Regions from separate parts of the Homo sapiens genome. Here region 1 is linked to region 2. Evidence: fine-mapped expression QTL. Tissue or cell type: fibroblasts. Region 2 holds a variant in brackets; the other region holds the start of a gene. All regions are shown on one strand. Distances are from middle to middle.

Region 1 (5,990 bases), 30 kb after region 2:
GTCACATCAGCCTCATTGGGTTGTTATGAGGGCTATGAGTCAGGCTTGGGCAAGTAGCTAGGTTGAGTGGATCATCCAGGATATATTTATTGTATTTCTATTGTATATCAGGGCCTGTGTGCTGGGTCCTGGGGATATGATGATGAGAGCCTCACAGAGCTCCCAACTGAGTGAAGAGACAGATGTTAATCAAATAATCACATATGAAATATAGTTCCAAATGGGGAGTCCCCAAGGAGGGCACGCTGGAGCTGACATCTGGAGGTTGCCTAGAAGTTAACAGGGAAAAGAAGTGGGACTGGGTGAGGGGAGGAGCAGGACACATCTGTCCCAGGAAAAGCAAGGAGGCCTGTATGGCAGGAGCATGCTGAGCAAGGGCAGAGAGGGTGGTGGGAGAAGAGGCTGCAGCAGCGGCCAGCTTGTGGAGTTTCATCTTCTTTCTCAGAGCCATAGTAGCTAGCTGTGCGTCTGAAGCATGGAAGGGTCTTGTTTGGAACTTTTATCTTGGAAGACCACATCGGTGCAGTGTGGGGAACAGATTAGTGGACCCTAGAGCTTTCCAGGCAAGGCCGATCCAGGGACCCACGTGGGGATGCAGAAACGGGGACAGATTCTGGTGAAATTTAGGAAATGAAATCACTGGGAGTTGACGATGGATTGGTTATGGGATGTAAGGGAAAAGGAAGTGTCCAGGGTCACAGTTGATTCTCAGTGTGTACCTGGGTGAAAGATGGGCCAAACTAAGGAGGGGTGGGTTTGGAGGGTGGCAATACTAGGAGCTCAGTCTTAGACATGCTGCTTCGGTTTGGTAGAATTTGGCCTGTGGGTGGGGACAGTGATCCAAGAGGGGGCAGTGCATGAGCAAAGGCAGGGAGGAGGGTTGGTCATGCTTGGGGGTGCAAGGAAATGGAACAGACTGCACTGCAGGCGGTTCTCCTTGGTGTTAGGTGGCTGCCCCTGAGATGGGTTTGGGGTTATCCAGGGGCCACAGGCTATGCCCAGCAATGGCAGCCACCTGGGTTAATGCTGCCTGGGTTAATGACCAGGGAGGGAGGGTGAGTGAGTGACAGGGTGTCAGGGGAGCCCGCCCCTTGCACAATGGCACACATGGCCTCCAGAGCTGATAGGGAGGGGCCTCATTAGGGTTTGGCTCTGCTCCATGTGGGGCTGGGGGCTACAGGGAGAGCCCTGCCACCCAGATGTGGGTAAAAGGCAGGAAAGGGGATAGAGGGGTGGGCGATTACCAGGATGAGGGCTCCTGGTTCTAGCCCTGGCTACGCCAGATATTCACAAGCTGACCTTGGGAACGTCCACTCATTCATTCATTCATTCATTCACAGAACACATTCATCAGCCATAAACAGTGTGCCAGGCTTCAGGAAAGATATTAAGATCTAGCCTTTAGAGGAGACCAGAGACTTATACCTAAGTAGCAGCAATAGTTGTAGTAGCAATAATAAAATAGCTCAATACATGACTGTGTTCTGGCTCCCCCGCTCTACCCTTGGTAGGCATCATGTCATTGAATCTTTATAGCAGCCCCTGTGGGGTGGCTACTCTTCTTATCCCTGTTTTACAGATGAAGAAACTGAGGCTTAGAGACGTGAAGCCTCAAAGGTCAGGGCCAGCAGGAGATGGGGCTGGGATTTGAACCCAGGTCCACAGTGACTCTGAGATTTTTTTCTCTCCTACATGGGTGGTTCCCAAATCTGGCTGCTTATCAGAATTACCTGGAGGGCTTTTTGGACAATACAGAGGCCTGTTTTTTTTCCTCTTTCTTTTTGTTTCCTGACTCAGAGTCTCTGGGTCCTGGGTGGGGCCAGTGTTGGGAGCCTCTTGTGCTCCTGTGCCCGCTTTTCTGTGAAGCTCCTGCTTCTCCCGCTTGACTCGCTCTGCCCCGGGTACACAGGCCTTGCTGTTCTCAGGGAAAGCCCGCTGGCTCCCCCACCTTGGCCTTTCCACTTGCCCTCCCAGAACACTCTGCCCCAAACCTTCTTGTGGCTTGCTTTTGACCCCTCTTCCTTCCAGTGCCTTATTTGAATGTCACCTCCTCATAGAGACCTTCCTGACCGTCCTATAACCCTTCTCCTCCAACCCATTACTCTTGGCCCCATGTGTTCTCTACCAGGGCCAGTCACCTGGGACACTTAAAATGTCTGATGCCCAGAGACTGACTCTGTTGGCCTGGGGTGAGCCCCAGGCTTCAGTGCCACCTGGCCTGGGACACGGATCGTCACCCAGTCTCATTGTTCACAGCTCTCTCCTTGAAATTATACATGTGCTTGCTTATTGTCCATGTCTCTGCTAGAGTGGAGAGCAGGGGACTGGCCTGTCTTCGGCCCTGCCATATTCCCAGGTGATTTAAAAGCACCCGCCACACAGTAGGAGCTCAGTGAGTACCTACGAATGAAGGAATGGGATGGTGGGGCTTGAGGAAAGATAGCTCGACTGACCATCAGGATCGATCTGTTCCCAACATCTGGTGAACCCTTGGAGGGTTCTTACAACAAGGGAAAGTTTACCTGATCCGCCAGGTTCACACCTCCATGCTGCCCCGAACATCCCACTCTGGCTGCAGGACCACCTCGGGGTGAGGACGGTGGGTTGAGATGGCAGGAATCACCACGGTCTCCCTGAGATTCAGGTTGCACATTGGCAGAGTCAGAGCTGGAAGGGCAGGAGTGGTGTTGAGTCTGAGCTCTCACCGTGCACATGGGCCCTGAGGCCTAGTGAGGGAAGGAGCCTCGGCTAAGGTCAGGCCGTGGTTGAAGAGGGCCTAGAGGGTAGGAGCTACAGCATGCTGTGTGACCTTGGCCAAGCCTCTGACCTTCTCTGTGCTTTAGTCTCCCCATCTGTACCTGCAGGGCCTGGGCTGAGATGATCCCAAGCCCAGGACGTCAGGAGTTTGTTCCCTGAGTCCTTTCCTGGGCAGCGCTGACTGCGGAGGGCTTGCAAGGGGTTAAGCTCCTCCAGCTCTTGCTCTGCACGCAGACAAACCCCCTCCTTCTGACAAACACTTGTAGGAAATCAGGCTGGGCGCTTCCTGCCGAGGCGAGGCGGCCTCAACCACGGCAGGGGCGGGGAGAGGTGGGGAGCGATGCTGGTCTGTGAGCAGCAGCTTGGGCTGGCAGAACGGCCTGGAGGTGGGCCAGGGCGCAATGGAGACAGGGGGCTCCCTGGGTTTGGAACAAAGAATTCACAGGCAGGTCCCCTGAAACTGGGTCGGCAGGACGGTGGTGGAGCCCGAGAGAGGTAAGGGATTGGAACGGAGGAGGGCCCGGGAGGCCGCTTTCCTTCTGGACGGGCCAGTCACAGACTCTCCGGGACAGTCCAGGCAGCCGGACCAGCCCAGCCAGGAAGTTGCAGCTGCTGGAGCTGCACCGCTTTTCTCTTGGCTTAGGGGATCCCGGCCTCCAGGGCAAGGGTGGATTTAAGGAGGATTTCGTCAAGCCTCAGGATGCTAGATTCCAGTCCTAGCTCTGATTCTGATCTCTTGTGAACTTGGGTAGGCGGGTCCATCTCTGTGCCTGGGGTGTCGTCGTCTGCACCTGGAGAGTTAGTGTCCTTGGTTGCTAAGGGGTCTCAGAGACGATGCAGGCATGGGCAGCAGGCCAGGAGGCAGCGACGGCGCCGGGGGGTGGTCCCTATTGAAGGAGTGGCCCCTTATGCCAGCTGCGTAAGAGCAAGGAGAGGAGCCAAGGACAGTCCGAGGACCAGCAGACCCAGCTCAGCTCTTGAGGATGGCAAGACCAGAGCTGGCAACAGCCAGGGCACCGTTTCTCTTTCTCCTCGGCCTCTGCTGCTGGAGCGGGCTGGGGGCAGGGAGGACACAGAGAGGGAGTGGCTGGTGCTTCCTTGTGGGACTAGAGTCCACACAGCTGGTGGGAACCCCTTGAGAACAGCAAGTCTGTGCCCTGCCAGCAGGTGGGTGGGGGTATGGTTGAGCCTTTTTGGAAGGTCTGGTTACTGATTTGGGGGGTGGTCTTCCTTCCCCATCTCCCTGACACATCTGACAGCCTTGGTTTCAGAGTTGCGGTACCCCAGCTTTGAATCCTCTGTCTGCGCTTCCTGGCTGTGAGGTCTTGTGAGAGCAGGCCATGTCTCTGTGCCTCAGTGTCTTCATCTGGGAGGTGTCAGGGTGTGGGTGGGGGTAGAAGCAGGGTGGCACCCTGGACAGCTCTGGCTGGATGGGAAGGGGCTGCAGAGGGCACGGGGAGGCTGTGCGGGCTGCGTAGCTGTGCTGGCAAAGGAGAGCCTGGGCGTCTGGGCAGTTCTGAGGGATTGAGCCATAAAGGGAAGGGTCCCTGGCTGTGGAATGACTGAGCGGGCGGAGAAGCCCTGTGTGGGTGGTGGGGAAGAAGAGTCCATCCCACCCAGGAACTGAAGATAGACACCTCAGGGGTCTGTTAGACCCTTGAGAGAGCAGGGGCAGTGGCGGCTTGGGTGTAAGAAGGAGATGTGCAGAAGGAGGGTGCAGTGGCTGCTACTTCCTTGTGGGGCCAGTTTCTCCAGGGATGGCGGGGACCCTGAACTCCATAGCCCTCCCCAGCTCACACTGCTGGAGTCTTCACCAAACCCCACTCACTGCCTTTTAGGAGCAGCCCTGCTGCCCTAACGAGGGCTGGCTGGAACAACTCTGCCTTTATCTGGCATGCAGGGACACCTGCCCATAGCTCTCCTTCAAGGTCAGGCCATACTTTCAGACCTACGTGCCTTTGCCTCCGTGCTGTTCCCGCTGCCTGGAATGCCCTCCCCAGTCTTCTCCCCCAAATCCTCATTGTTTCTCAAGCCCACCTTAAAGCTTCCTTTGGTAACACTTCTGTATTGTACTACCCCCCACCGTTTAAAATCTTGGAACACTTTTACTCTTTTCTATATTCTTTGCATCTTACGTAGCGCCTGGTATATAGTAGGAAGTCATAGGGCTTTTTTAAAAAGTTAATTTGCGCCCACTGGGTGCTCAGTATGTATCTTTGTACTTTGAAATGTGACCTCAGGGAGGAGGAGAGAGGTTAACAGTTCTGAGGCTGTTGCCCTTAGAAGCTGAGTCAATCAGGGACTTCAAAGCTCTTTGAGTCCCATACCCTGCCTCCCAACCCACCCTAGCAGGGTGATATCCCCTTGCGATATCAAGAGCAGGTGGTACTTTCTCTATTTTACAGTGAGGAAAATGCAAGCCCAGCTATACACAGTGAGTAACAGCAGCCAGGACTAGCACCTGTCTCCTGATGCCCAGCCTGCTTCTCTATCACAGCATCGTCCCAGCCTGAGGTTGGCAGGTAGTTGGCACTAACGTGTGTTTGTTGACTGACTAGCTGACTGGCCAGTTCTGGGGCTTTGTGGTGAGGAGGGCCATGGCTCGCATGGAAGGCAGAGGCCTGGCTCAGGAAAGGCTCACTGGTTTAGGCGCCTGGGGGCAAGTGCGAAACTCTAGTCAGTCACTGCAGCTGCCTCTGACGTGCACCTTCCCCTGGTTACAGTGAGATTTCTGCCACGACTGAGTCATCCCAGAAGACAGGATGTTCCTCTTTGTGCACCCAGAGGGCTCTGTGATTGGGCAGGCTGCTCTGTGGCAGAGCTAGAAAAAAAGCCCTTTAAAAAGTCAAAAAACCGCACACCTCCCCCGGCCCCTTCCTCAGCAGAGGCTTCAGAATCAGAAAAGCAACAGCTAAATTGTAGCCTCTTCTCCACCTGCCATAACAGCAGGAGCCAGGAGGCCTAGTGAACTTCAAAGGGCAGGCCCTGCCTGAGGCCCTGGTTTAAAATGCAGATTCCTGGGCCCTATCCCAGGGCCACTGAGTCAGGCTCTCTGCAGGTTGTTTCAGGAAACTGCACGCTTAGAGGATTCTTAAGCACACTGAAGCTTAAGATCCCTGGCAGGGATTTCCAAGAAGGGTACAGGCCCTGCAGAAGGTATGAGAAGCAAGGATTAGAGCTTCTATTTAAAATATAGTTGACCAGCTGGGTGGGTGGCTCATGCTTGTAATCCC
Region 2 (5,000 bases):
GCACAGTCCAGAGCTCCCTTCCACAGATTCAGCTTCTCTGACATCACAGGGCTTGGGCCTCCCTGAAGTCCAGGCCTTCTCCAACCGAGGCTTCCAAACAGGGCCCTCCTTGAAGCTCTGCATTTCATTAGCAGGTGTGACCTCAGACAATTCACTTCCCTTCTCTGAGCTTGTTTCTCTCTCTGGGAATACGGATCCCAGCCTCGCCCCAAAGTAAATGACTGTCTCCTGAAGGCCCTTTAGCAGGGACAAATGTCTTTTCTTTAGAGCAGTGGGGACTCGCCTGTTTCCTTCAAGGAGGCAGGCAGAATGAAGGGATGCTGGTCATGGCAGTGGGGTCTTTCCCTCCCCTCTCTCCATTATTCCTGCCCAAAGCATTCAAGGTAAATAGAAAAGGGGTTTGGAGAACGTGTGGATTTTGCATGTGTGTGTGCGCGTGTGCATTTGGGGAAGGGGTTGTTGCTGCACCCACCCATTCCCTAAATATTTATTTGATGTATCTTTTCTTTTTGCCTTTTGCTCATCCTTCCTCCCCAGGAGCGGCTGCTGTGGCTTATAGACCTGATGGAGGTACCGTCCTTCCTGCCGGTGGGGACTGTGGGAGTCCCTTAACCAGGGGCCGGGGTAGGGGGCTGTGGCCTTTTCTGCCACCCCCGTATGTCTGCACCCAGTCCTGGTGGGGACCAGGGGTTCTTATTGGTGCTGACTGTCTTTCCAGGTCATCAGGTTTCCTGAGCTCTGCAGTGAGAATCCCGTCCATTCAAATCCCAGCTCTGCCACTTTCTTGCTGTGAGACCTCAGGAAGTGGTTTCACCTCTCTGAGCTCAGTTTTAGGATCTGTAAAATGAGGATGGTAATTTCTGTCCCGTGATGTTGAGAGACCCCTTGGCCTTTGCATATGCCATGTGCTTTCTGTCTGGAATGTTCTTCTCCCCACTTCATATGACCTGACTTTCTCCTATGTGTGCTTCAGCCCTCAGCTCAGAAGCTGCCTCTTCCAAGAAGACTTCCCTGATCCTCCCAAGGGGAGTGACTTTCAGGCCACGGCTCCTCTTGCCCCCGGGCTTCCTTTGGTCACAGCTCTTGCCTCATTATGTCCTATTATAAAAGCCTGTACAGGTTTCCCAGTTACCCAATGTGACTGCTGACTGCTTGAGGGCAGCGATCGCACGTGCGGTTACCATTGAGTCCCTATCCCTAGTGCTCAGCACAGACCCTAGCCCATAATTTGGGCCTTTATTAATAACAATAGTGGCTGAGATTTGTTGAATGTTCTCTATGACACTGTGGTAGTGCTTTCCATTCGTATCTTCTTTGACCATCCCAGGAGCTAGGAGTTGTGAGTACTGCTGTGATCCCCATTTTACAAAGAAGAAAACCAAAGCTCAGAGAGGAGAAGCAACTTGCCCAAGGTTGCATGGCTAGTGAGTGATGGAGCCAGGATTCAAACCCAGGCTTGCTTGACTCTGAGCTCTGTTGTTACCCCTGCCATCTGGCTGTGATTCTTCCCTGAAGGATCTCACCAGCTCCCTGTTAAGCATCATTTCGTCATCTATCTGCCTCTCTCCTCCCTTCCTTCTTCTTGTCCTTCCTTTCTGTTAACAAATATTGAGCATTTACTGTGTGCTATGTACATTTTGAGGTTCTGGGGATACAGTGGTGAACACCAAAGAAATCCTTTCCACGATGGAGTTGAACAGACAGCAGGAATGCCAGGCAATAACACAGGATATAGATAACTGAAATACACAGTAAGCTAAATGATGACAAGTGCTAGGGAGAAAAATAAAGCAGGCAAGGGAGACTGGAGAGGGGTGGGGTGGTTAGGGAGTGACCCTTGAGTCAAGACCTGCAGGTGGTGAGGGAGAGAGCCATGCCAACATCTGGGAGAAGAGCATTTCCAACAGAAGCAGCTGCATGTGCAAAGGCCCTGAGGTAAGAGAATGTCAGAGAATTCCAGGCGGCCA[A/G]TAAGGCCAGAGCAGAGGGAGTACGGGGGCAGACATGCTGAGGACTTTGACTCTGAGTGAGATGGGAGTCCTTGGCAGGTAAGAGCAGGGAACTGATGTGGTCTGACTTCGATTTAACAGGGTCCCCCTGATTATTGAGAATAGGTAAGAGTGGGTTTGTACCAAGGTGAACTGGTTAATTCCTAGGAACCAGCCACACCCAGAGGTCTGTGGGCCACGAAGGGCCTGGGAAGGTCATGCAGCCTGAGTTGCTAAAGATGTGATGATGGGTTCTGCAGGCACCAGCTCCTCCTGTGGCTGGGTCAGCCCCTGCCCTGTTGTCTCCTGGGAACCCCTCTTCTCCCCACCCCCACACACAGCAGGTCTCAGATTGGAGGCCCTTTTGCTCACCCTTCCTCAGGAGCGACTGCCTTTTGCTCACCCTTCCTCAGGAGCGACTGCTGTGGTTTATAGACCTGATGGAGGTACCACCCTTCCTGCCGGTGGGGACTGTGGGAGTCCCTTAGCCATGCACACCCATGTTGGCTGCATGTGTGGCCACAGGACAAACCTCCTCCACGTGGAAGCCCTCCTGCAGAGTACGCAGGGCACTGGGACCCATCCTAGGAGTCTGGACCCCCACACCGGTACTCCACTCTGTCTCTCCCAGGCAGTGTGCTCTCAAGAAAGCCCCTCACTCACTCTTGGCCTCAGTCTCCCCATCTGTACAACCACGGAAGACCCCCATGGCTCCTCCAGTTCTGAGAGTCTTCTCTGCATCAGGAGGTGCTGGAAAATATTTGGGGGAGGCACAGCAAGGAATGACAACTCTATATTCCCACCTCTTCTGTGTATATTTGAACAAGGACTGCAGCATTCCTCCAGAGAGAGAAAGAGCTTGAAATAATCACCTTTATTCACCACTAAGTGCCGCTGTGTGGTCTACAACACCACATATTAGTAAGCTTTTGCTGCAGTAATGCTGAGTAATAACCCTAAAATGTGGACAACAACCCAAAACATAACATGGCCAAAATCCCTTCCTGCATGGAGCTCACACACTCCTCATACCTCTGCTAAATCACTTGTCACATTGCTTTAACCTCTTCGTGGGTTTCCCTTCCCCAATAAACAGCGAGAGCTGGTGCAAAATGGAGGCCCAGAAAGTGTGGAACAGAAACTGGAAGGAAAGCACACACTCCCCGGCCACTTGCAGGATTATCTTCTACTATGCGGCCTTCTAAACATTCGCCTCCCACATGGTAGGAAAATGTTCTTTGTTCTAGTGTTCAGTTGGGCAAGATGACATCAGGTGGCTGGCTATCGATGACCGAGATGCCCCAGACACTGGCCCCAAATGGAGCCAGTTTCCATTTAGCCTGAATTCCTCGGATCATGCTGTGTGGTTATTGATCCCAGGTTAAATGTGGCTCATTCTGCAGCCATTTCCCCTCAAAGCAGACACAGTCAATCAAAGGAAATCAGATCCAGCTTTCCCCCATTCACAAACTGTGTTGATTTTCCATTTGTCTAACAGAGAGCCAGCCCTGAGCATTTTATGCTGCCTTCACACAATATCATTTCCCCCATAAAGATGTTGGCCGAGAGAGCAGAGTGAAAGAAGAAAGGCCTGCCTGTTATTTCTTGAATTCTTCATCTAGTGCCAGCATGCCTGTGGCAGAGGGGCTTAATTGCACAGATTCTGGGATCCTACCAGCTGGGTTCTGCTTTCCAGAGTAGTAGCTTTGTCACCTTGGGCAGATGACTTGTGTCTTCTGGGCCTCCATTTCTGCATCTGTACGGTGGGCTGATAAGACCAGCTGTCTGGGTTGTTCTGAAGATTCAGTGAGATCAGGAGTGGATATGCAGGTGTGGAGTGTGGAGGAGCCCATTCTGTTTCTACTCCAAAGGTTGGAAAAGGGCCCTGTATTAATCCGTTCTCACACTACTGTAAGAAACTGCCTGAGACTGGGAAATTTATGAAGAAAAGAGGTTTAATTGACCCACAGTTCTGTAGGCCGTACAGGAAGCATGGCTGGGGAGGCCTCGGGAAACTTAAAATTATGGTGGAAGTTTGAAGGGGAAGCAGGCACATCTTACATGGCTGGAGGAGGAGGAAGAGAAGGGGGAAGTCCTGTACACTTTTAAGCAACCAGATCACATGAGAACTTACTCACTATCACGAGAACAGCAAAAGGGAAATCTGCTCGCATGATCCGATCACCTCCCACCAGATTCCTCCCCCAACACTGGGGATTACAATTCAACATGAGATTTGGGTGAGGATACATAGCCAAAGCATTTCAGGCACTGCAGAGCATTGTAGAGAAAAGGGGATTGGAGAGGTCAAGGCCAGCCTTGTACTCAAGGAGCAAATGCCCTTGAGGTCAGGTGGCAGCAGCTGGGATTTGCCCTGGACTTGACCTCAGGCTTTTTCCACCTGGATTTGAGAGAGTTTGTGCTCCAGCCCTGTCATATGCCTGGAAGGAGGCTCCCAGCCCCTGCCCAAGGATGCTGGGGACAGGATCCCTGCCCCTGAAGGCCTTACTGTCCTTCTTCCCTCCTCTTGTCCCCCAAAAAGAAGGTGAATAGGGGGCAGTAGATGTGGCTGTCAGTGCTTCTCTGCATTGGCCTCCTTCTGTGGCCTCTGTGCCTCCCTCCTTGTCTGCAGCACAGTGAACTGGGAGAAGCTCAGGCTTGTCTCAGGCCCCTCCAGCTGCAGGGACCCCTCACTGTCAAACCAGCTTTTTTTTTTCAGAAACAAGTAGAAAACTGTCAAAGGGCCTTATTTTTCCTCCTGCATCCTGACTTTGGTCCAACCTGGATGGTTTAGAGAATCGTTCTCCATCCATGAGCGGGGTAAGAGAGGAACTCCATGTATTCCTTCAGTCATGCGTTCAGCCACTCCTTCTTCTATGCAGCAGCCTTTGTGGAGCATCTCCTGCCTGCCAGGGGCTGAGCCTGTGCTCTTGAAGCTGATCAAGTCCAGTGGAGGAGGCTACCTCAACTCAAATCATCTCCATAACTCACACTCTGATAAAGCGGGCTGAAGGG

The links. PIP is the estimated chance that this variant, and not a neighbour inherited with it, causes the effect.
Region 1: it holds the start of AKNA, and the variant in region 2 is fine-mapped to the expression of AKNA in fibroblasts (GTEx, PIP above 0.99).

What each region holds. Positions count from the first base shown.
Region 1 is chr9:114,385,122-114,391,111 of GRCh38, reverse strand. AKNA (AT-hook transcription factor) reads left to right here and starts at 3,130. Exons shown (of 22, transcript NM_001317950.2): 1 at 3,130-3,252. LOC124902253 (a long non-coding RNA gene) reads right to left here and starts at 3,062. Exons shown (of 3, transcript XR_007061742.1): 1 at 2,859-3,062; 2 at 2,523-2,667; 3 at 1-269. RefSeq lists enhancers at 2,838-3,127, 3,168-3,297, 2,768-3,503, 4,318-4,467, 5,238-5,297 and 2 more.
Region 2 is chr9:114,415,607-114,420,606 of GRCh38, reverse strand. The region is part of intron 7 of WHRN (whirlin); the gene reads left to right. Among named protein-coding and RNA genes, the nearest start is that of AKNA, 30 kb to the right of the region's middle. The variant A/G (reference allele first, on the strand shown) is at 1,968.